Linked DNA regions of Homo sapiens. The protein of the gene in region 1 purifies or fractionates together with the protein of each later gene. This does not show direct contact. Each region holds a gene or a part of one and is shown in the gene's direction. Other genes may lie near its edges.

What was found.
Region 2: the proteins of SRPRB (region 1) and SRPRA purify together in Homo sapiens (affinity purification with mass spectrometry; 8 studies listed by BioGRID and IntAct, with this or other methods). This does not show direct contact.
Region 3: the proteins of SRPRB (region 1) and STX18 purify together in Homo sapiens (affinity purification with mass spectrometry; 5 studies listed by BioGRID and IntAct, with this or other methods). This does not show direct contact.
Region 4: the proteins of SRPRB (region 1) and TMEM259 purify together in Homo sapiens (affinity purification with mass spectrometry; 4 studies listed by BioGRID and IntAct, with this or other methods). This does not show direct contact.

Annotation. Positions count from the first base shown.
Region 1 is NC_000003.12:133,808,781-133,815,814, forward strand, and holds part of SRPRB (signal recognition particle receptor subunit beta), read left to right. Parts: intron 1-2,336; coding exon 2,337-2,419; intron 2,420-6,809; coding exon 6,810-6,946; intron 6,947-7,034. UniProt on the Homo sapiens protein: Component of the signal recognition particle (SRP) complex receptor (SR). Ensures, in conjunction with the SRP complex, the correct targeting of the nascent secretory proteins to the endoplasmic reticulum membrane system.
Region 2 is NC_000011.10:126,262,438-126,265,929, reverse strand, and holds the end of SRPRA (signal recognition particle receptor subunit alpha), read left to right. Parts: intron 1-106; coding exon 107-193; intron 194-489; coding exon 490-662; intron 663-757; coding exon 758-971; intron 972-1,390; coding exon 1,391-1,554; intron 1,555-1,640; coding exon 1,641-1,739; coding exon of another isoform or gene 1,740-1,834; intron 1,835-1,885; coding exon 1,886-2,014; 3' UTR 2,015-2,992; downstream 2,993-3,492. UniProt on the Homo sapiens protein: Component of the signal recognition particle (SRP) complex receptor (SR). Ensures, in conjunction with the SRP complex, the correct targeting of the nascent secretory proteins to the endoplasmic reticulum membrane system.
Region 3 is NC_000004.12:4,455,018-4,462,051, reverse strand, and holds part of STX18 (syntaxin-18), read left to right. Parts: intron 1-79; exon of another isoform or gene 80-146; intron 147-2,564; coding exon 2,565-2,680; intron 2,681-4,551; coding exon 4,552-4,629; intron 4,630-4,794; coding exon 4,795-4,861; intron 4,862-7,034. UniProt on the Homo sapiens protein: Syntaxin that may be involved in targeting and fusion of Golgi-derived retrograde transport vesicles with the ER.
Region 4 is NC_000019.10:1,011,106-1,018,139, reverse strand, and holds part of TMEM259 (membralin), read left to right. Parts: intron 1-3,666; coding exon 3,667-3,948; intron 3,949-4,781; coding exon of another isoform or gene 4,782-4,799; coding exon 4,800-4,899; intron 4,900-5,566; coding exon 5,567-5,677; intron 5,678-5,951; coding exon 5,952-6,074; intron 6,075-6,147; coding exon 6,148-6,248; intron 6,249-6,341; coding exon 6,342-6,399; intron 6,400-6,476; coding exon 6,477-6,560; intron 6,561-6,640; coding exon 6,641-6,773; intron 6,774-6,944; coding exon 6,945-7,034. UniProt on the Homo sapiens protein: May have a role in the ERAD pathway required for clearance of misfolded proteins in the endoplasmic reticulum (ER). Promotes survival of motor neurons, probably by protecting against ER stress.

The DNA of each region.
Region 1 (7,034 bases):
TCGGGAGGCTGAGGCATGAGAATCATTTTAACCCGGGAGGTGGAGGTGGCAGTGAGCCAAGATTGCGCCACTGCACTCCAGCCTGGGCAATAGAGCGAGACTAAGTCTCAAAAAAAAAAAAAAAATATAAGGAATCATGGGAAAGACATTTTACATACCTCTGTAACTTCAGAATGTAGACAGTGACTACCAAACCGATTGTAATGCATAAGTTTGTTTGTTTGTTTTTGAGACAGGAGTCTCACTCTGTTGCCCAGGCTGGAGTGCAGTGGCATGATCTTGGCTCACTGCAACCTCTGCCTCCCGAGTTGAAGCGATTCTCCTGCCTCAGCCTCCTGAGTAGCTGGGATTACAGGCGCCCACCACCATGCCTGGCTAATTTTTGTATTTTTAGTAGAGATGGGGTTTCACCATGTTGGCCAGGCTGGTCTTGAACTCCTGACCTCAAGTGATCCGCCCACCTCAGCTTCCCAAATTGCTGGGATTACAGGCGTGAGCCACTGCACCCAGCCATGTAATAAGTTTCGGTGAGTGAGTGGAGTGAGGGCTCGTTGGAGGATGTGGATGGATAGATGGATGAATTAGAATTGTGGTTTGAGACCTTTTCTTCTTCTCTTTGTCTTCTTTCCCCTTTCTCATGCCTCCAGAATTAAAGATTGTAAAGAAAAATAAAGGGACATGTTTTTAAATATCTTAGCGATATCTTTGTTTTTTTTTTCAATGATGACACTCTTTGTGGCCCAGACCTTTTTAAACTCCCAAGGATTCAGATTTTGAAATTCCAGGTTTGCAAGATCATCTAGTACCTGCACTAGATTTTTAACTTAGGATACTCCAGGATATGCTTTAAATCTGTACCTTCTAATATGTAGCCACTGGCCACATGTGACTGTTGAGCACCTAAACTAGGACTAGTCCAAATTGAGGCATGCTGTAAGTGTGAAGTACACACCAGATCTTGAAGACTTAGTATGGAAAAAAAGAACGTAAAGTATCATTAATAATTTCTTTTTTTATTACATTTTAAAAGATAATATTTTGGATATATTAGATTAAATAACTTAAAATTAATTTTACCAATTTCTTTTTACTTTTTTATTATGGTTACTGGAATATTTAAAATTACATATGTGGCTTCTGTTATTCTATATTTCTACTATATTTCTATTCTATCAATATTTCTACTGAATATATAGAGCATTTTTCCCTTCCCTCTTCACTCTTTCTCCTACCCCCTTACGTTTTCGATCTAATCTCTTTAGATAGTAATATACCTAGTAATGTATCTTCCAAATTGCTTAGGGTGTGTGGTATAGTGCTGCTTTTGAAATGGAGCAGTTAAGTCCCAACCTGGGATCTCCAGACTCTTAACAGTACTTAAAAAAAAAAGAGAGGGACTAATAAAAAACATATTTGTCTATAAAGAAATGCACAGGCTATGTGAAAGGTAAGGTCATAATAAACCCAGCTGGAATTGTGTTAAATCTGTGCAGGATACTGATTGCCTGCTTCTGAACTGTGGGTATGGTTGGCTGTGGATAATGTAGAACATGTAAGAAATGATGGTCTGCTGCATGTACCAGGCCACATCTAAGAGTCTTATTGTTGAGCACAGCCACGTTTACACTGAATATAAACTTTATTCACCATTCCAGGCCTTGACCTTATATTCAGGAATGGCAGCCTGGCATGGTGAATAGAACTTATTAGGGTGCATCGTAGATTTGCTCAGTAGGGGCTCAGGAATTGACACAAATGCTGACGGAGTTGGAACAAGTAAATTATATGTCTGGAAGATAAATATTTAAATAATTAGATTAAGGGTGGAAATGATAAAAGTGTACTTTGTTATAAAGATTGGAGATCCCAGTAAGAGTAATATGCTCTATGAAAAATTGTAAGTTCTTATATTACATTATTAGTTTATGAGTACTTGTTACTGTTTTCACATTTTTGCTTATACTCATACAGTACTCCTACTTTGCTATACTCACACTGGTTTATCTCCCAAGCCTCAGGTAGATCATGCTTCCCTGACTCCCCCAGACAGGTTTTTCCTGTACCCTCAAAACATTTATCAGTGTTCTCATTTTATATTTATGTGTAATTTTACATTATGTTCACCTTTCTCATAAATTTTGCCAGATCAGGAACCGTGTCTTTGGCCACTGTTACATCCCCAGAACGTTGACTAGTGTTTTATGAGTAGAAGATGCTTTGTGAACATTTGTTTGGTTAATTAGGTACCAGTTTGGTAGCCAATATATGATACTAAAGGTTTATATTGTGAACGTGGAACTGTATTGAAACGTTAATGTTATTGCTGCCATCCCCAGGGCAATAGTCTGACCTTGATTGACCTTCCCGGCCATGAGAGTTTGAGGCTTCAGTTCTTAGAGCGGTTTAAGTCTTCAGCCAGGTAAGAAGGAAAGAAGTGAAGTGGGCTTGTCTAGGTCTGTATCTGTATATCAAAGCCACTCATGTGATTTGCTCTGGTGGTGTTTGGGAGGCAGCATGGTATCCTGTGGTAGACCTTGAGGTGACCTTGGGGTCAGCCAGTTCTGGGTTGCAAGTCCACCTTCACCTGGATGATGAGGATTTTATGGGATTAAAATGCTTAAAAAGTGTTTTTTAGTGTTTAGGAAATGTTAACCCTTCTTGTCATTGTTACTAAATGTTTGCATTTATTCTGAAGGTGAATTTAATAATGTATATGACTATTAAAATCTGAAAAAAGAATTTTAAAGCTGGGATGAATCCTAGCAGTTTTTAAATGCCAACATCATTTATATATATAGTGTTTTTTTGTTTTTTTTTTTTGAGATGGAGTCTCACTCTGTTGTCCTGGCTGGAGTGCAGTGGTGTGATCTCGGCTCACTGCAACCTCCACCTCCTGGGTTCAAGTGATTCTCCTGCCTCAGCCTCCTGAGTAGCTGGGATTACAGGCACGCACCACCACACCCTGCTAATTTTTCATAATTTTAGTAGAGATGGGGTTTCACCATGTTGGCCAGGCTTGTCTCGAACTCCTGACCTCATGATCCGCTGGCCTCAGCCTCCCAAAGTGCTGGAATTACAGGCGTGAGCCACTGCACCTGGCCCATATATATTCTCAAATTACGTAAAATTGATGTTTCAAGAAGTACAGAACAATATTTCCATATTTCTTTTAGTGTGTGCTCTGGTGTTACTGACTCTTAAGTTCTTCCCTAAAAAGTCTTATGCTGCAGTTTCAGATGCTTCTTTTTTGGTCTCTAACATTAATAAGAACTGAAGAGGAAAATCAGTATGCCACATTTCACTGATTTGAAGACACATTTTAATATCTCTGAATTTAGAATATATCTTATAGTTGATGGTGTCATAGTTTAATTGGCAGTATTTTCTCTTAGCGGTCCCTAAAATAATGTCTTTAATTGGCAGCATTTTAGTTTTGATGGAATGAAGTAGTAGATTCTTTGCCTTTTATTGAAGATGTCTAGACTGAAATTTCATTATTGCATCTTTGCCCACAAGATGGTGGTGATGAACAATTTGTCACAGATAAGAAAATTCCTTGGACAATTGAGACAAATCTAGAGCTGGTAAATTTTGCCATAATTGGGTTTTTATTTCCAATTAAATGTTTTTTCTTTTTCTATTGCCAGTTCTAAATATTTTATGATTTGCAGTATAACTACTCTGTGATTCATGTATTTTGGGTAAATAAAACATGCAAAATATGAAGATAAAACTTAGTTCAAATAAATTATAATCATGATAACATGCAAGTTGAAAAGACATTTACTATATTGGTATGTGACTTTTTTTTAATCCTACTTTCTGGCTTCGCCAAGTTTCCCTAGTGGCTATTTTCCCTCTCCTGATTTGAACATATGCTGTTGCTGTTCTTATCATGGTTCCCCTCCCCCATCTTTTAAACATTGCCTATTTGATTGTCTGAATCCAATAATATCAGTTTCCTTTTCCTGAACCTTAAACACTTTAACTTTCATCTTCCTCACATCTTCCTTTTATTTATGCTCCTTTTTAACCCCCATCCATACTTTTTTTTCCTCTTACATTCAGTGATGAGAATTACCAGGATGCTTATGGTCTTTTGCTCCCCATTGCTTCTTGAATTTTACTTCTTCCCTTTAGATTCAGTTTTCCCTCACTGAGTATATCTTTTAGAAGTGTTTCCAGAGAGGGTGATGAGTAGTCAAATGTTTTCAGTCTTTGTTCATTTGTAACTCTATTTGGCCAGCATTTTGGAATGTCTCTTTTAGCTGAGTGCAGAGTCCTGGGTGGCAGCCGCATCACTCCTGACCTCATCCATCTGTTGCAGATGAGAATGTTTTTGCCAGTCAGTCTAATTGTCATTTCACTGTAGTAAGTCTGCCTGATTTGACCTTCTATCCAGGGATAGATTTTCTTCTGTTCAAGGATGGATTTAGCTTTATCATTCTTGGAATTCAGTTGTGCTATTCCAAACCAAAGATTCTCCTCAGTTTTGGAAAATTCTCACCATCGTTTCTCCAGGTAGTGCTGTTTCCCCATGATCATTTCTCACACTCTGGAATTCTTATGAATGTTATTGAACCTTATTATTTTTGCCTTTCTTGTTTCCTCTCTATCGTATCTTCCAGATCTTTCTACTTCGCATATTGTAAGATTCCCTCAGATTTGTTTTCTAGTTTATTACATTATTTTCAGCTGAGCATGATCTCTGCTTAACTTTTCCATTGATTTATTAATATCATTTACTATATTTGTCTAAAATACTTACCTTTTCAAACCAGCCTGTTTCTTTTTATACTATTCTATTTTTTATTGTAGTTTGTAGTATTTTCTTAAATAATTTTAAACATTTACTTTATAGATAGCTTTATTATCTTAGTTTTGGGGTGCTGATTATTCTCTTTGGGGTACCAGTTATTCTCCCTCATAATTATTTTATTCTGTGCCTTGTAATTTTTGCTCCAGAACCTTTCTTCAAGAGTGACACATCATTGATATTGTGGTGGTTCTTTAATCCCGTAGGATATGAAAGCCTTGCTCCATAAGCGGTTCATAGTTCCTTCTGTTGGGGCCATAGGGCTTCAATAAGTCTGGCCCAATTTTTATGTAAGCCTTTCCCCTTGGGGGTCTTACACCTGGAGAGAGTATAAATTCATACCCTATATCTGTGTGAGGCAGTGGAGGCCCGCTGTTTCTAAGGGAACTTTTTTTGCAAGCCCCGACCTCCCTGAGACTATTTTAAGTTGTAGGCTTTGTGCAGGGCATTCAGTTCTAGCTCCCCAGCTGCATGTTGGCCATTGCATGTCTCTTATCTCCACCTGGGCATTCAAACCCTTGTCCATAAGGCTTGTATTTTTTTTTTTTTTTTTGAGACGGAGTCTCGCTCTGTTGCCCAGGCTGGAGTGCAGTGGCGCGATCTTGGCTCGCTGCAAGCTCTGCCTCCCAGGTTTACGCCATTCTCCTGCCTCAGTCCCCTGAGTAGCTGGGACAACAGGCACCCGCCATCACACCAAGCTAATTTTTTGTATTTTTAGGAGAGACAGGGTTTCGCCGTGTTAGCCAGGATGGTCTCGATCTCCTGACCTCGTGATCCGCCCGCCTCGGCTTCCCAAAGTGCTGGGATTACAGGCGTGAGCCACCGCGCCTGGCCGGTTTTTTTGTTTTTTTGTTTTCTTTGAGATGGAGTTTCGCTTTGTCACCCAGGCTGGAGTGCAGTGGCATGATCTCAGTTCACTGCAACCTTCGCCTTCTGGGTTCAAGTAACTCTTCTGCCTCAGACTCTCAAGTAGCTGGGATTACAGGCTCCCGCCACCATATCTGGCTAATTGTTATATTTTTAGTAGAGATTGGGTTTCATCATGTTGCCCAGACTTGTCTCGAACTCCTGACCTCAAGTGATCTGCCTGTCTCGGCCCCCCAAAGTGCTGGGATTACAGGCGTGAGCCACCGCACCCGGCCCCCTAAGACCTGTTGTCTGCAGTTTCCCTGGGCTGCTGCACTTTAGCTTTGATATCTCTTTGTTTCTGTCACATGAGGAGTCCCACTATGGCTGCCTTAGTTCAGGCCCTACCTGGTCACTGTGCTTCTAGTTCAAGCGCCCTCTAAGATTGCTTTGTCTTCCATTTAGGCACCAATATTCTTCATAAGACAGAAAAGCATGAACTCCACAGGTCATTGTGTCACGCCTCACTGTCTGACTTGGTTCTCCTTCATTTCCCCATCTCCCTGTGTACCAGCTTACCTTGACTTCCCCAGGGAATGTGTTTCACGTATTTGTGGCTTGAACATACTGTAGGCTGAGTATCCCTTATCCAAAATGCTTGGAACCAGAAGTGTTTTGGATTTTAGACTTTGGATTTTTGGATTGGGGATACTCAACCTGTACTTTCCAGACAGCCTGTGCCCCAATTTTTGGTCTAGCTAAGATTCAACTCAACTGTTACATTCTCCTTAAAGTTGCCTTTGACCTGGTCTCATTTAAATGATCTTTCTCTTTATTCCTGTTACACATGTGCATAGTTTTGTCTTGGCATTTATCATATGGTTCTCTATATGATGATTTGTCTTGGAGGACAGGCATCATTTCTTACTGTCTTTTTTCAGCTTCAGTCATTGATACACAGTAGCACTCAATAGTTCCTTGTTAAATGAGGATTTATGTTATATGATAACATATGCACAGACCTGCATGTGTGTCTGCTGAGTGTTAATCACCAAGATTGACTTTGAAGAAGTTCAGGATAGTTTTTCAAGATAATGATGTCCTGTTACACGTTCACATGCCAGTTTTTCTTGTTTTCTCCCTCCAGGGCTATTGTGTTTGTTGTGGATAGTGCAGCATTCCAGCGAGAGGTGAAAGATGTGGCTGAGTTTCTGTATCAAGTCCTCATTGACAGTATGGGTCTGAAGAATACACCATCATTCTTAATAGCCTGCAATAAGCAAGGTGCCATCATGTTTTCTTGCAATAATAATTGAGTTTTTTGGGGATTGCTGCTACTAAGAATTATTTCCATTATTTACAGTTGTTATTA
Region 2 (3,492 bases), on another chromosome or scaffold:
CGGGATAGGGGTAGTTGAGAGCAGAATCACCTAGCGTTTCTCACCTGTACCATAAAGATTGGTCATTGCTGACATGGAACTGACATACCTGTCCCCCTCTCCTCAGCTAAGAACGTGGCTGCAGACATTGCCGTCCAGCTCTGTGAATCTGTTGCCAACAAGTTGGAAGGGAAGGTGATGGGGACGTTCAGCAGTAAGTACTTACCTAAGTGAGAAAGTGCTTATGTGTAGGTTAAGTGCATAGACCTCAGTTCTTACTAGGTATGTGACTTTCGGCAAATTCCTTAACCTCTAAACCTCTGTAACCTAGATTTTAAGGGTTATTGAGAGGATTCAGTGAGTTAGTCCTTGTAATGTGCGTCTGTTCTGGATTTCTGGGACAAGAGTCTAATTTACTGTTTTAGTCCCCTTAGCTCAGAAAGGTGTTAGGCATTTTTGAGAGCATTCCTTGAGTTTCACAGCTGCAACCTCCTCCACCTCCCCTTTCAGCGGTGACTTCCACAGTAAAGCAAGCCCTACAGGAGTCCCTGGTGCAGATTCTGCAGCCACAGCGTCGTGTAGACATGCTCCGGGACATCATGGATGCCCAGCGTCGCCAGCGCCCTTATGTCGTCACCTTCTGCGGCGTTAATGGAGTGGGGAAATCTACTAATCTTGCCAAGGTCAGTGCAGTTCCCCAGCCTATCGCTGATATTTCTGTACTTCTTGTGTCTCAAAATCCTGGCTTTAGGTGACTTTTCTTACGTCTTTTTCACAGATTTCCTTCTGGTTGTTAGAGAATGGCTTCAGTGTCCTCATTGCTGCCTGTGATACATTTCGTGCTGGGGCCGTGGAGCAGCTGCGTACACACACCCGGCGTTTGAGTGCCCTACACCCTCCAGAGAAGCATGGTGGCCGCACCATGGTGCAGTTGTTTGAAAAGGGCTATGGCAAGGATGCTGCTGGCATTGCCATGGAAGCCATTGCTTTTGGTACAGTGCATGGGAAGTGTGGGGGCTTATTTGGGGTCCCTTTTTCTCCTTGGGTTCTCTTGGAATTTGCAGAAGATCAGGCTTGTGCTACTACAGACTCGTTGGTCAATTACAGTAAAAAGTCAGATCAGTTACTTGCCATGCTCTGCTTTTGGATAACAGATGTAGTTGCAGGCAAAGCTAATATACCTTAACCAGAGAAACCTGAATTTGGTCACCTTCATCCTGTTGTCCTCCTTTTCCTGAATATGTTTGGTGATGGCCAAGCATATAATCAAGTTTTTCTCACATTACCTTGGAACCAAATCCAGAGCCCAAGACAGTGAACAGGTAGTCAAACTAGGACTTTTTGAGAGGAAGCTGGGAACGAGCATGAGTGGTAGTCCAGGTGTTCAGAGTTGACTACTTTCTTTCTCTAGCACGTAACCAAGGCTTTGACGTGGTGCTGGTGGACACGGCAGGCCGCATGCAAGACAATGCCCCTCTGATGACTGCCCTGGCCAAACTCATTACTGTCAATACACCTGATTTGGTGCTGTTTGTAGGAGAAGCCTTAGTAGGCAATGAAGCCGTGGACCAGCTGGTGAGAGCGTGGGCCCAGTTCCCTTTACAACTTGAGCTTTGGTCAATTTAGATGGTTCTTACACTTCTATCACTTTTTCTTTCCAGGTCAAGTTCAACAGAGCCTTGGCTGACCATTCTATGGCTCAGACACCTCGGCTCATTGATGGCATTGTTCTTACCAAATTTGATACCATTGATGACAAGGTAAACGTGAGACTGGAGGCTGGAATGGGCGTCCTGCACAAAGGAGCTGAGGCTGCAAGGAAATCTTGGCTCCAGCGCTTCCTGTTCCTGAGAGGGTGAGTGAAAAGTGGGCTTGTGTTGATGGGCTGTCCTCTTTCTCCACTTAGGTGGGAGCTGCTATTTCTATGACGTACATCACAAGCAAACCCATCGTCTTTGTGGGCACCGGCCAGACCTACTGTGACCTACGCAGCCTCAATGCCAAGGCTGTGGTGGCTGCCCTCATGAAGGCTTAACGTGGCTCTTGCCCAATACCAAATCGCCGCTTTCCCCACAAGCCCTTCTTCCTGTATCAAGAATGTGCTTTAGAGTATGTGAGCAACCTGTCTTCAGTGTAGTACAAAGGCAGAGTGAGGGGGCTTGTGGCTCCTTCCAACCCCACTCCCCGTTCAGCACAGCCGCCATCTGCAAGGAAGGCCTAATCATGTTACAATCACTGCCCACTGACCCTCTCCCAGCGGGCCTCCCCCTTCCTACTCAGGCACCCCCTTCACTCTGCCTACAGACTCAGTCTTATTACAGCTTTGACCAATGGTTGGAACCCAACACCAGAGCTTTGCTAATAATTAGTGTGGTCAAGAGCCGTCTGAGCCTAATGAGTCCCAGCTGCATTAGGTTAAGAGACTCTTCCAGAGCCAGCGCCAGGTCTTGAATGGCACCTCTCCCTAGGATACACAGCCTGCAGGTCCCCAGGACCTGGATGACACCCGCCTCACTGTGGCAGTGTATTGCCTGTTAATTGCTGCTAATTCTAATTCTGATGATGACTCCTACTCCATTGTTTACCCCAAAGCATCAGCTAGGCTGGAGTGATTTGTTACAAATGAGCAAAAGATGAGTCCTTGCTTCCCTCAGAAATAAAAGGAGCTCAGCTGCAGCGTTGCATTGGGCTTCTTGGCCTCCCAACTCTTCCCACTCCCAGAATCCAGAAGTAAGCTCTGCATGTTCCCCTTCCTGGGAGGAAACCAATTGTCAGAAGGATGTATGATGACCCCCTCCCCTCCCATCCTTCACCTCCTAAGCAGTCCTGGCTTTTCCTCATCACTCCCCTCTACAGTGCCTGGTAGACAAGTGCTACATTGAAGAACACAAACCTCTTGTTAAGACTTGTCCTGTAGCTTGATATTACAGATGTGCTATTAGTGCAATAAGGTGAAGGCTGTCTGCCCAGAGAAATAAGTAATTTATATAAGAAAATAAATTTCATAAATAAATTGCCTTTTAGGTCTTGGAGTTCTTTTATACAGGATTCAAAACTAAAATTCCACAACACACTTAACTGTAGTTCTAGGACATATGTATGGTCAGGACAACAGAGCAGAAGTTGATAATGCTCCGAGGAATCAGGTAAGTAAACGGTTGTCCTGAGAATGAGATCACTCCACCCCAAGGAGAAAGATCGGAACCTTTAAACTTTGGGTTATTAAAATTAAGCTTATTAGTACCTTGATGCAAGTTAGAGTTTCTTACAATGACTCTAAAAGTAGAGCCAGGGTCCTGGCAAGTAAATGAACAAGCTTTTAATACAGCTTAGTTATGTAAAATACTGTACACTGTAAAAGATCTAGAAAACTAGAGCTTCAAGTCATGTTTTAAAAAAGCCATTAAGCTTAATTGAAAAACCAAGTATAGAGTACAAAACTGCAACAAGAGCCACAGTGATTCCATGGCATCCAGACCCCGAGTCCTTCATGCAGAGCTGCAGCCGGTCAGT
Region 3 (7,034 bases), on another chromosome or scaffold:
CCTTGTTGATACTCTGCTCTTGAATTAGACACACTCAGGCATTAGTGCCACTGCGCAGCCGCAGCCCCTGGAGCACAGACAGCAGGGACAGGCCCCTTTGCAACATAGGAGAGAGAGGAACAGAGCGGAACCTCTGCTGTCTCTAAGTAGGTAAAAGAGAGGAGAGAAAGGTGTGGTGACTATATGCACACCCCATGCTTTCTGCGAGGGGGCCAGAGGGAGGAGGCTCTGGGAGGAGGCAAGGTGTCATTTGGGGAAGTTGGTTCCCACAGAAACATGAGGATTAGGGAATAAGCATTCCCCCCGGTAGCCCAGGTTCTGTCCAGGTGGAGAAAGACCACCCTTATTGTCTCTCATCAAGTTCTCCCTCCCAAAGGTGGTAGACTGCTTAAAGCCTTTCTTTTTTACTCTTCTGCCCTCCCAGTGCAATGTGCTAGCCTTGGCCTGCTCCTAGGAACATTTTATGTGGAGTATGATCATGGAATTGAAAGAATATGTGTAGAAATACTGCCTTCAGACCTATGAGGCTTTGTTAGTTTGACATAATTAGGAAGCTGTAATTTTTTCCAGAATGTAGAGCTCAGACTTTATTGACCCATTTAATTTTTTTTTAATAATGACATTTTACTAGAGCAGAACAGCATGTAACCTAGATAGCCTGTGGCTAGATCTCTGAATGATTTTAATTAAAAATAATGTCTCCACTTCTGGTAGATGGACTTTTTCCACAATATCCTGGCAACAAAACAATCTGGGAGAAAAAACTTCCTTGGTTTCTGTTGTTCTTACTAATAGAATAACCATACTGTCAATTTTCAATTTAGAAGGTTAATGTATATATATAATGTTTCCTAAAGGAACATTACCTTTTAATTAAATAATCAGTTTTATCAAATTAACCTTTAGACCTTTTCAATTTCACTGAGCTGAGTTTCCATTAAATCAAAATATAGAGTAGGAGGATGTTAATCGAATGTTCTTGGAACTAGTCATTTCTAGGTCTGTTCTGTCTGCAGGGTACATATTCACTGAGTTGGTACCTTTCTGACTCATTTGTCCCTGACCCCGTTAGCCTCTATTTCCGATGAGAAGGTTCCTAGTAGGGATGAACCTAAGGCTTTGGCCCCTCTGCTTGCCACTCTGGCTCCTCCCCAGAGGGGAGCCATTCATCTGGTGTTGGAGGTGGGCTGGGGTTGGGGAGAGGGGATCGAGCTTGCTGGCTTAGCGCCTTTGTCTCACTGTTGGGTCTTCCCTCGGACAGAGTCCATTCTCTCATGGTTGCCATCCCAAGCCTAAGTAACTAATAGAACAAGATCCTAAGGAGCATTGGAATAAGGAACTAATTCCATGTCACTCTTCAAGTTCCACTGAGAGAGGATCATCTATTCCCTAGGAGGCTGGAGGCTGTGGGATTTCTTTTTCCAACTCTTCCTTAGAAAATATGGAAGTGGGGTAGGGGCCGTGGGATAGGGGTGACTCCAAGGGAGGAGAGGATGCTTATCTGGTGATTGGGAGTGAGAAGGACTTCGTGCTCATCTTACCCCTTTCTTTTTTAGAAGGGCCTGTCCTCAGGATGGATGTATTCCCTGTTTGTTTGTGCCTTAAGTTTCCTAGAGAAGGCTTTGGGAGGGGGATGCCTACCTGTCTTGGGGTGGGGGGAAAAATCGGTTTAGGAGGAACTTACTAGGGAGCACAGTCGTAGCTGTGTATCAAGCATATTCTCCAACTCAGGCTCATTCATTGGTTCAGTTCATTCAAAAGTATTTATTACTGATTTATTAATTGATCAGCCTATTAAAAATGCTAGGCATTGCTCTTGATGATGGGGATACAGCAGTGAACAAACAGAAGTCCTTGCCTTTGTGGAACTTACGTTTTTAGAGGGGAGAGACAGGCAAGAAAAGAAATAATTACACAAAATATATGGAATGTTAGAGTGGGGTAAGTATCTTTACGGGGAAGGAAGAAGGGAAGTGGGATAGAAAATGTCAGGGAGGGGACAGTTTATAAAGAAGGATTAGGGAAGGCCTCATTAAGAGGGCAACATGGAGTAAACACCTAAAAGAAGTAAGGGATGCATTGATGCAGCTATCTGGGGAAAGAACATTCCAGAAGGAGGAGACAACCAACACATGTAAAGGTCCTGAGGTGGGAGTGTGCCTGGAATGTTTAGGGAACACCCTCCACCCTCTGATTCAGTCATTTTGTAGTGTGAGACCCTTCAGTAGCTGCGCCATTGTTCTCAAAAGCAGAGCCTACATTCTTTATAAGCCTGGCTTATGCTGTAGCCCTGACTCCACGCTCCTTCTCCCTCTCCCTCTCCCCATCTGGCTTACGTCAGTTGGGTCTATTCCGGAGGATTTTCTACCACACACCCTTCATATGTGTTCTACTATCTATCTAGATGGTTCTCTCACCTTTTCACCTGGCCTGTTCCTCCTCACCCTTCAAGTCTCAGCTTAAATGTCACCTGATCAGGGAGGCCTTTTCTTCTCTTCCCATCCCACTCAGACTATATTATGTTCTCATTTGCTGCTGCCCTTTCCTTTGCTGTCTTTTTTTAGCCATACCATGTCTGAATATGGGAGGATGACAGACACAGAACGAGACCAGATAGACCAGGATGCCCAGATATTCATGAGGACCTGTTCAGAAGCAATTCAGCAACTACGAACAGAAGGTAAAGTGCTCTGAAAGATGCAAACAAGCAACCATGAATATAGCAAGTAGTTAAACAAGATGCATATGGTGCGGCCAGTTAAAATTCCCTCTTCTTATTTCGATTTAGGTTTTAAAACGTTAAAATCTTTTCTTTCTTGATCAATGTTTTAACCAAAGCTGTTAAAAGTACTGCAAAGGCTGTATCATTCAAGTTAAACCAATGAGAGGAGGGAGATGGAAAGGACCTCTCCAAACAGAACCAAAAATATATCTAGGGGCCAGGGGCAGTGAAGACAAATTTGTGTGTGTGTGTGTGTGTGTGTGTGTGCGTGTGTGTGTGTTCTGTGTGGCAAATTGTATGTGTGTGGGTGTGTATGTGTGTATGCACATGTGTGCCTCTGTTCTGTGTGGCATTTAGTGGGATGGGAGTTGACAGCAGCCTGGGGTACTTAAGCTCTACTTGTAATATTCAAGTAAACTTTCCTATCAAACCTTCAAGGTTAGGAGGAAGGCTCTGGAGCCAGGGCTGCTTAGGTTGCACCCCAACTCCACCCGTCCGAGCCATATAGCCCTCTGCAAATCACTTAATCTCCCTGGGCCTTGTTTTTTTGTCTATGAAATGCAGACAATTAGGGAATGTATCTCTAGGGTTGTTATGAGCATTAAGTTAAATTCCTACAGCATGCTTAGAACTGTGTCTGGCACAAGAGCGCTTATTATCTCACTTTCGTTGATGTTTAATTCTCACTGAGACAATGAGATGGCTTCCCAAGTCACGCCTCTTTCTTGATTCTTTTTTAATTTGCTTAGGCATTTACAGAGTACATTAAATAGTAAGTAGAGTTCAAAGCTGCCAGATGCTGTTGTGCTCACAACACAGACTTTTGTTGGGGAGGTTTTTATTAGAATGCTGACGGACCACTTGGAGACTCTGATGGAAGCAATAGGCATTCTTGCCAGAAAAATGTACATACACAAAATTCTATATGCAATTTCACAGAGCTCCTGAGTCCCCCACACAAATCTTGGGTTAAGCAGCCCTATAGTAAGGCAGAAATCATGCCCTCTACCCTTAAGGGCATATACATTCATTGAGAGACCTAAAAAATGCACAGGAATATTTAACAAAACCTACATTTACATATGAAACCATCTAACCTTGGGCTATTTATTGCCTCTGAACCTTAGTTTCTTCACGTGTAAAAATCAGGAAACTCGGAATTGCTATTGTAATTACTAGCAGTACATATGTAAAGTGCTAGCAGAGTACCTGCACGCAGTAGGCACTCAGTCTCTCAGTCAGTGGTCACTATCTTACCAAAACCAGTGGCACAGACTTTAGGTCTGGTAAGGCCTTTTAGCACACTTCTGTGTGGTAGTTCCCAGGAGAAAGGCATCTTTGTGGCTAGGAGTCATAGGTTTCCTGGAGACAGAAAGTTTGACTCATTGTCTAAGGGACCCTTAGAATGTGAGTGGCCAAGGGGAGAGGATGGGGCACTACAGGCTGAAAAGCAGCACAGGTTCAAGCAGGGAGGAGTGTGTGATTTCAGTTGTTTAAACATGTTCGCTGAAGGTCAGCTTGAGCATTGGATGCTGTTAACACAGATGGGGTCAGCACTCAAGAAGTGGCTGCGTCAAATACTATCCTTAAGTGTTCTGATAAACCATAAATTATTTGACTATAGATTTTCTACAGGTTTAATCTTTCACTCTTGCGAAGCCTGATACATCTTACTGTTTTAAAAATGTAGTGTCACTTGGCACAAGACTTGTTTTATAGCTGTGTTTTAAAAAATACTCTCAATAAAGAAAGTGTTGTGAGGAAGCTGATGAATTGCTCTTTAGGATAATTGAGTGCGAAGGCCTGAACATTGTCTTTTTCTGTTACAGCTCACAAGGAGATACATTCCCAGCAAGTGAAGGAGCACAGGACCGCTGTTTTGGATTTCATTGAAGATTACTTGAAAAGTATTTCATTTTCTTTTAAAGGTCAAATGTAACATTTCACAATAGATGTGATGCAGAATTTAGCTTTGCTAGCTGAAGACTGTAGTATCTCATTATATTTAATGATGGCTTTGCCTGAGAAGCTGTTTTAAGCAGTCTCTCTTCTGGTATTTTCTTCTGCAACAGGAGTATGTAAACTTTACTCAGAACAGAGAGCCATCCGAGTTAAAAGAGTGGTGGATAAGAAAAGATTGTAAGTATTGCTTTCATTGGTGTTTCTTAATTAATAATAGTACTACTAATAATAGCAGTTAAAGTTTGTAGAGCACTTACCCTATGCAATGTACCGTGTTTGAACTTCTTCGCAAAATGCCATAGCTGGCGCTACCGGGCACTCACTGTGTGCCAGGCAGCATGCCAGCCACTTTATTGGCCCACAACAAACCCCCATGAGGCAGGTACTGTTTCCTCCCTCATTTTACAAATGAGGAAGTTGAGGCTCAGGAGGCTTGGCCACTCACCCTAGATCCCACAGTCCCACAGGTAGCATAGCTGGGGTTTGAGCCTAGGCTGTTGGTCCAAAATCTGTGCTCTTGCCCATTTTGTCTCTTAACCCGATGAGGCTGGCACATCTTGAGCCATTTTACCTCAATCTCTTTGACCCCCATACCCCTTCTTGTCGTCCCTGAAAGTGTATTCCTGAGAGAAGAGCGAGGGCACAACAAGCAGGCCACCACAAGGCTGTCCTCAGGTCACCTGTGACAGACTTGCTCGATGCCACATGCTCTGAGTGCACACCTCCCTCCAACCCCACTACCTGTCCCATGCAGGCACTATTAGGAGCCCTGTCAGCAGGTAAGGACGCTGACGCTCCAGCAGGGTAAATGACTCATCCAAGGCCACAGGAAGCAGGAGGGCCAGGCTCCTGTATTTTCCATGGCGCCTGCCTGGTTTCCCCTCTGGGCTCACATGAGCATCTGGAATGCAAGAGCTGTGTCCTCACAGTCGTTCCCGCTGCAACTCAGCCAGTCTTGGAGATGGAATACATCAGTGAGCAAGTATCCAAACCTGGACCATTTCTAGACTAGCTTTAGAAAGGTTTTAGGATGTTCTTTCAGAAGATAACATCACATAACTGTTTGGGGACACATTTTCTTTTTTGTTTTTTTTTGTTTTTTTTGTTTTTGAGACAGGGTCTCACCCTGTCTCCCAGGATGGAGTGCAGTGGCACGACCTCCTGGGCTCAAACAATCCTCCCACTTTAGCCTTCCGAGTAGCTGGGATTACAGGCATGTGCTACCATGTCTGCCTATTTTTTAATTTTATTTTATAAGGGTGGGATGTCACTATGTTGCCCAGGCTGCTGTCAAACTCCTGGGCTCAGGCAATCCCCCTGCCTCCCAAAGTGCTGGACTACAGGCGTGAGCCACCATGTCTGGCCCACATTTTTTAAATTCTTACTGTGTCAGGGGTCCCCAGCACTACTCTCTGGTTCTAGGATTCACTAAGAGGTCTCATGGGACTCAACATACAGTCCTGCTCCTGGCTATGATTTGTCACACTGAAAGGATACGAAGCAAAACAGCAAAGGAAAAGGCATGTGGGACAAAAGTCCAGAGGAAACCAGGCATGAGCTTCTAAGAGTACTCTCCCAGTGGAGTCACACAGCATGTGACCTATGACAACACGTGAAGTGTTGTCTACCAGGGAAGCTCATTAGTAACTCATTGCCCAAGGATTCTGTTAGGGGCTGGTCACATAGGCACCTCACACCTGGCATCTACCGAAACTCTAGACTCCCAGGAGGAAAGCAGGTGCTCAGCACTGAACTGCATTCAAACCGCATGTTTTGCAAAACAGTTCAGGCACGGCGAGCTGTTTTTATCAATTAGGATGGCATGAACTCTGCCAAAGTCCAACTTCTCAGATGCCAGGCAAGGGTTAACCTTGCAAGCAGGCCTTTCTAAGGATAGCAGCCTCAGGCCTACTACATGAACCCTTTTCTGCACATTTGTGAAACAGATGTGAAATTGTTAATGCCAACAAATAGAAGCATTTGTGGAAGATAGTAAGCAGATCAGTCAAGTTATCTGTCAGCAACAGCTACTATTATATAATGCACTGAGAGGGTAGCTTGAGAGAAGCCATAGATTAAGTCTTTGTGCTTAGAGAGCTTAGAAGCAGGCTGGGTTGCTATTAAACATGAAAAATTAGTCAGCTTAATCAGGATATGTCATAATTAGTGAAATCGGTAGTAAGCTCAGAGGGGGAAATGGTACGATCAAGTGGCATAGTATAATGCCTAAGAGCCAGACTCTGCAACCAGACAGCCTGTGTTTGAATCCTGGCTCTGCCACTTTCAAACTGTGTGACTTTGAGCAGGTTGCTTAACTTTTCTGGGCTTTTGTTTCCTTACCTATAAAATG
Region 4 (7,034 bases), on another chromosome or scaffold:
GCGGTTGGGCTCTGGACCCAGGTGACCACCAAGTGGATGCCCACAGGGTGAAGGGGTCTCGACTCAGCACCCCTGGACATGGGCAGGGGCCCGCGCCTAGCCACAGGGAGTAATGGGGCTCCTCTTGTGGGGTCGTGACGATTAAAGACGGGGTATGTGAGACCCCAGGGGCCCTGCTCTGAATGGGGGACCTGTCACATTGAGGCCACTGTGAGGCTGCAGTGGAAGGAGAGGCCCCGGTGGCCTGGAGGCAGGAAGCACCCCGGGTGGACAAAGGGGAGCCCCAGGTAGTGTTTCCTGGCTGGGGCTGAGGGCTCTGTGTCCCACCTGGGAGGAGAGTGTGGCTCCGCGGGCTTGTGTGTCCGTCGGTCTGTGGGTCAGTCAAATACCCAGAGAGCGGGCAGGCTGCTCCTGGCACTCCAGGTCTGTGGGGAGACAGGAAAGGAAAGGCCCACCCAGTGGCCGAGTGTTGGGGTGCCCTGAGAGCCTCGGCCAGAACATCCAGGAAGCTTCCTGGAGGAGGCGGTGAGCACGGCCCCAGGCTGGGGGAGGTGCTCCTGTGGGTGCAGCCGTGTGTGGGCTGACCCGGAGGAAGGAAGGGTCATAGGGGTGGGGTGACTCCTGTGCTGGGTGGGCAGGGCCTCCTGGAGGTGAGCCACAGCCAGTGGGATGGGGTGGGGTGTCCAGGCAGCTGGAGAGCGTGTGGGAAGGCCGTGGGGCTGGAGCATGTGGGTGCCTGCTGGGGAGCCTGGGTCAGGGACAGGGTCATGGAGTGTAGGGGACTGGACCACCCAGGGCATGCGAGTGGCTGAGCCAGGTTGCGGGCAGAGGGTGGCCAGGGGCCCATGGGAGCATTTGCAGGTGAGCTCCCTGGGGAGGGTTACTGTGGGCGTGGACGAGGCTGCCTGGGCGTGTGGCTCAGGGCCGGGCCTGGTGAGGTGGCTGCTGCAGGGTGGCTGATGACAGACAGGTCTTGGGGAGGAGGACCCGGGACTCGGGATGAGCCTGCGTCTGGCTGGGTGGTGCCTGCTCCTTGTTTTGTGGTGGGAGACTGAAGGGGAGCTGAGGCTTTGGCGGCAACGGGCCTTGTCCAGTGGGGCATTTTTCTGGTCATGCTCAGTCAGGGAAGAGGGGCCCTGAGCTCGGTCAGCACGGAGCACCTGATGGGGCAGAGACACAGTGACGTCTGAGTCATAGCGTCTGGTGGACTTGAAGTCTTTGACTGGAGTGTGTGCACATTGTGTGAAAACACTGGTGCCCTCTCATCACGTCCGCTGTCTTCATGGGACGGGTCACTCACACCAGTGCTGGGTGTGGCAGGATGTGTGTCCTGTGCCCTCTCCCGCTGACCCTGGACCAAGCTGACCCTGCCCAGGGCAACCCCAGGAGCTGCTCTTCCCCGTGGGGCCTTAATTGTGCAGACTGGCACTGCCCTGGCCCCTCCCTCCTGGCCATGTGACCTCAGCAGGTCCAGGTCTGTCGGGACCTCTGTGTCAGTTCCTCGTATATAAACCAGGGATGGTAACAGCCGTGCGTCCCTTGTGAAGCGTTGGACAGCCCCGACCTCGGCCCACTGTGTATCAGCACTTTTTGGAACATCTTGGCACAGGGTCCATTGCTGTCCTGGGCACAGCTCCTGCTGGATGTGTGGGCCTGGAAGGCAGAGCGTGGCCACCAGCAGCATCCACCATGGGCCTCGCGGGCCCCTCTCTCCTGAGAGTGCTGAGCCGAGGGGCTGTGGGGTCAGTGTCTCTGACCGTGACCCACCACTGGGCCCAGCCTCCGTGGCTCCTGTCCCCAGATGCCATATGGGGAAACGCTAGGCTTTGAAAGCATCTCAGGCTCCGGGGCTGCCCCCCTTCCACACTGCCCTCCCTGTCTTCCCCAGGACACAGGGGAACCCTCCCCAGCAGAGGGCCCTGCCCCCTCCCCCCGCCCACCCCTCATTTGTAGCTCCGGCGTCTGTGGGCGGGGCCTGAATGCCTGGCGGTCAGGGTTCTGCTCTTGCCTGTTTCTGCTTAAATCTCAGCGCCGGGCCAGCCTTCATCCCCTGCGGCTCTTTTGGCTGTAAGGACTAGAAATGCAGTTCAGATCAGCCCAAGGGATTCTCCAGCTCCTGGGGCTGGGGAGTGTGATGGGGCTCGCCCCAGGTGCACGTGCGGCTAGACCCAGGGCTTTATCCGTGCTCAGACTCAGGGCCTCCCACAGGTCACAGCACTGCGGCCGGGCTGGAAGTGGGTTGCTTTGCTGACTCGGCCCTTTGCTCAGTCTACAGAGGGTTCTGGAGAGGAGGCCCCAGCTCACTGTGGGCGTGGAAGAGTTGAGGCTCCTGGTGGTCTTGCCTATGGCTGTGCGGCCACAGGTGGCTCACTGCACCCCGGGCATTGGTGCACCTGCCAGCAGGTCACGGGTCACGGAGGGGCCCTGTGCTCCAGGCTCTCTGGCTTGTGATTTTGAGTCTGATCAATTCTTCCCTGAGAGTCTGGGGTTCCATGTGGCCGTGGGCGCCCCCTTGGCCCAGCTGGGTCCTCAGTTTTGCGGATCGGGGCAGCAGGTAGACGTGACCCTCACCAGGCTCGGGGGTGATGCCTGGACCTCAGGTTGGGAGGTACAGTGGGCAGCCAAACCGCCAGACGGTGAGGCGGGCTCCCTGGAAGAGGGGCTGCCCTGAACTGCCCCTAGAGGGGCCCCACTCTGAGTTGTGCCTGCAGCACGCTGGGGCGTGGGCTCCCCAAGCCCTGTGGACGTCGGGGTGGGGCCGTCCTGGGCACTGCGGGGTGCCGAGCAGCATCCCTGGCCTCACCCACTCCATGCCAGGAGCTCCCCCAATTGTGACAACCACAGATGTCCCAAGCATCCCCTGGGCAGGAGCCCCCAGGTGAGAGCTGCTGGCACCCCAGTTCATAGGTTGTGCCTCGGGCACGGCAGCCTCGCCCTGCCGTGGGGCGCTCTGCCCAGCCACGGAGGTCCACTGTGTCCCCAGCAGCTGCGGCTGGCCCCGCCAGGCCTGGGAGGGTTGCACAGGGCGCCCCGCCAGGTGAGAGAAGCTATTTTCAGGTGGTGAGATCAGGGGAGTGCTGGGGACGCAGCGGAAGGTGAGGCAGGAAGCAGCAGGTTGGGCTGTGGAGGGCTGTGCCCTCTTTCGTAGACAGTGGGTCCAGCTGGTGGCCCTGGGGTGGCGGCAACACCCATGCTGCTGCTTGCAGGGCGGGAGCCGTTGGCTGGCAGAGGGCCCTGGTGTGCTCCACTTGGTGGGTCTGAGTCCAGCCTCGTCTCCTCCCAGGTTTGGGGGGTCCTGTGTGCATCTGAGAGGGCCCCGGCCTGCTGGCTTCGTCCGGCTCACCCCTGAGGAGGTGCGGGGCAGTCACAGGCCTTGCCGAAGCCCCAGGGCCTGTCAGAGCCGGGCTGCAGGTGGCAGAGCCCCTCCGGGGTTGGAGTGGGGCGTCCCCCGGATCCTCAGTCACTTGGACTATGTGAGGGGCTGGCCCGGTGCAGTCAGCGTGGGAGGGACCCAGGGTCCTCAGAGCCCAATTCGGCTTCTGGGGTTTCCTTCCTTTCCCCGTCCTGGGCGTCCCAGCGCGCCCCATCACGCCCCATCACGTAGGCCCTTGGGTGTCGGCTGCAGCTGGCCCTGGGGCGCCCCACTGACTGCCGGCCGCCCCCTAGGCCCTGTTTGTGCTCTTCGTCCTGGCCTACATCCACATCGTCTTCTCCCGCTCGCCCATCAACTGCCTGGAGCATGTGCGTGACAAGTGGCCGCGTGAGGGCATCCTGCGTGTGGAAGTGCGGCACAACTCGAGCCGCGCGCCCGTCTTCCTACAGTTCTGTGACAGCGGCGGCCGCGGGAGCTTCCCGGGCCTGGCCGTGGAACCAGGCAGCAACCTGGACATGGAAGATGAGGAGGAGGAAGAGCTGACCATGGAGATGTTTGGGAACAGCTCCATCAAGGTGAGCCAGGCCTGGGCTCAGCTGCAGCAGAGGCCAGCGCCCCGTAGATGCTGGTCGCTGAAGGGGCGGTTCCTGACATCGACAGGATGTTGGGGTTCTTGACTTTCAGGGACCTGGCATGCAGACAAGGCCGCCCCTGCCTGCCGTGGCCTTTTGGTGGCCTGGGGGCTCTGAAGCAAGACCCTCGGCCTGTCGCCCTGCTAGAGGCCTGGGCAGGGCAGGGGGATCTCGGGGAGGACTTGGGCTGGGCAGACTCGGGCCTTTGAGAGTAGCTGTTCCGGGGAGGGGATTGGCTGGGGCTGGGGATGCAGTGGGCAGCAATAGCTGAGGAGGCCTGGGGGCTGAAAGCTAAGAGCTCTGGGCCCATCCTGGCCGTCCTGAGGTGGCCCCACTGCCTGCAGAGGTGCTGGGTTCCCGGTCAGCTTGTGGTGGCCTTGGGCACTGGTGGGACCAGGTGGCTGTGTTGGGCCCCACAGCCTGGTGGGAGATGTTTTTGCTTCAGCAGTCAGGGTTTGGGGTCCCACCTGTTCCCACAGAGCCAACCCCAAGAGTTTGAGTGTTTGGGCAGAGCATCATGGACCCTTCCATGGGGTCTACTGCCTGTAGCTGGCCCTTGCCTCAGCTTCAGGATTCAGAGCTGTGCTGGAGATGGCCTCACAGCAGGGCAGGCTTGGTGTTGAGGTGGGGTCCCAGCTGAGGCGGGAGGCACACGTAGTCCACCCTGGCCTGGTCAGTGGTGGGGCAGAGGCTGAGGCTTCCAGTCCCTTCCCATTAGCAGGACTGTATCCTCAGGCTGGGCCCTCACAGCCCGGGCTGGCGCTGCTGACACCCAGGTCCCTGGTCGCCCACAGTTTGAGCTGGACATCGAGCCCAAGGTGTTCAAGCCGCCGAGTAGCACAGAGGCCCTGAATGACAGCCAGGAGTTCCCCTTCCCCGAGACGCCCACCAAAGGTAGGCCACCCACCAAAGGTGTACTGCCTCACGGGGTTGCCTCAGTCATGGGGTGCTGGGGTGCAGGCGGGGTCCCTCCGAACATCCCCAGCCTGCTGGCTGCATGTCCTGGACCGTTGAGGGCACCCCCGTGCCTCGATTTCCCCATCTGTCAGCACAGGAGGCTGTGGGGACACCCCAGAGCCTGGGGTAACTGGCTCAGCTCATCCTTTCTGGGATCCTCGTGAACGGCGACTTGGAGGGGATGGATCCCTTCGGCTCTGAGCTCAGAGTTCTAGCGGGCTGTGCTCAGGGAAGCCCCCGCCCCCGCCCCCACCCCTGCCCATCTGGCAGCAGAGGGTCTATCCAGAGGGCCGGGGCCTCTGAAGTGTTGGGGGTGTGCTGGGGGCCGCCAGGGCAGTGGGGCAGCCCTGCACCCAGCCAGCCCCAGCCAGGGAGAGGGGGCCACGGGAGGAGGAGCCTGGCCAGCCTCTGCAGTGCACAGGGCAGGACACCAGCTTGAGTGGGCACCATCCCAAGTGTCCATGTAGGGGTCCTCCCAGCACCCACCTGGGGCCCAGGGCTCAGCAGGTCTCACCCTCCACCCCTCAACGCCTGCCTTGCCTGCTGGCAGTGGGCGGGGGACGTGTGTGGGGGCGCTGACCTGGTCCCTGGTTCTGCCCTGCAGTGTGGCCGCAGGACGAGTACATCGTGGAGTACTCACTAGAGTATGGCTTCCTTCGCCTGTCGCAGGCCACCCGCCAGCGCCTGAGCATCCCCGTCATGGTGGTCACCCTGGGTGAGTCTGAGCTGCTGGGCTTGGGGAGCTCCATGGCGGGGCCTCCCCTCCTCCCTCGGGTCTCCTCCTGCTGGTGCGGGACGGGGGGCTGTGCAGGAAGCACTGGGGTCTGCCCCGCCCCAGGCACGCTTCCCAGGGCTGGGGTCCTGGATGGGTTTCCTAAGAATGGGCAGGGCCAGGAAGCAGGCCAGGCCTCAGCAATGGAGCCAGCTGGGGCAGGGCCCAGGGGGTGGCCTGGGCGGGGCTCCCGGCTCCCTGATTCACCCACCCGCAGACCCCACGCGGGACCAGTGCTTCGGGGACCGCTTCAGCCGCCTGCTGCTGGATGAGTTCCTGGGCTACGATGACATCCTCATGTCCAGCGTGAAGGGCCTGGCCGAGAACGAGGAGAACAAGGGTGAGGCATGCCCCGGGGCCGAGGGTGCGAGGGCGCGGGTGGGGGCGGGCGCTCACGGCTCCTTCTGCTGCAGGCTTCCTGCGGAATGTGGTGTCGGGCGAGCACTACCGCTTTGTGAGCATGTGGATGGCGCGGACGTCCTACCTGGCCGCCTTCGCCATCATGGTCATCTTCGTGAGTGCCTCGGGGCGGGTGCGGGGGCTGGCCGGGCGGGAGCCAAGCAGGCCCTCGCAGCCCCTCATAGCGCTTCCTGCGCGCCCCTTGCAGACGCTGAGCGTGTCCATGCTGCTGCGGTACTCACACCACCAGATCTTCGTCTTCATCGGTGAGTGTCCCGCCGGCGCAGGGCGGGGCGGGCGTCCTCCAGGCCCTCACCGGGCGCCCGCCGCCCTGTGCCCGCAGTGGACCTGCTGCAGATGCTGGAGATGAACATGGCCATCGCCTTCCCCGCAGCGCCCCTGCTGACCGTCATCCTGGCCCTCGTCGGTGAGGACCCCACCCGGCCTCCCCCGCCCCGCGCTGCACCCCGCCCCGCCCGCTTCAACCGGCGCCGCCTCTCCCTGCAGGGATGGAGGCCATCATGTCGGAGTTCTTCAACGACACCACCACCGCCTTCTACATCATCCTCATCGTGTGGCTCGCGGACCAGTATGACGCCATCTGCTGCCACACCAGCACCAGCAAGCGGCATTGGCTGCGGTGAGCGTGGCGCGGGGGCAGGGTGGAGTGGGTGCTGGTGGGCAGGGGTAGGGGGCTGCCAGAGGGAGGGGCGCTGGAGGCGGGGGTGGTGGCTGCGCCACGCGGGAACCCCAGGGGCTGGGCCTGGCAGGGTGGGACCTGCAGCCCCGACGCCCTCACCCCGCCCCGCAGGTTCTTCTATCTCTACCACTTCGCCTTCTATGCCTATCACTACCGCTTCAATGGGCAGTATAGCAGCCTGGCCCTGGTCACCTCCTGGCT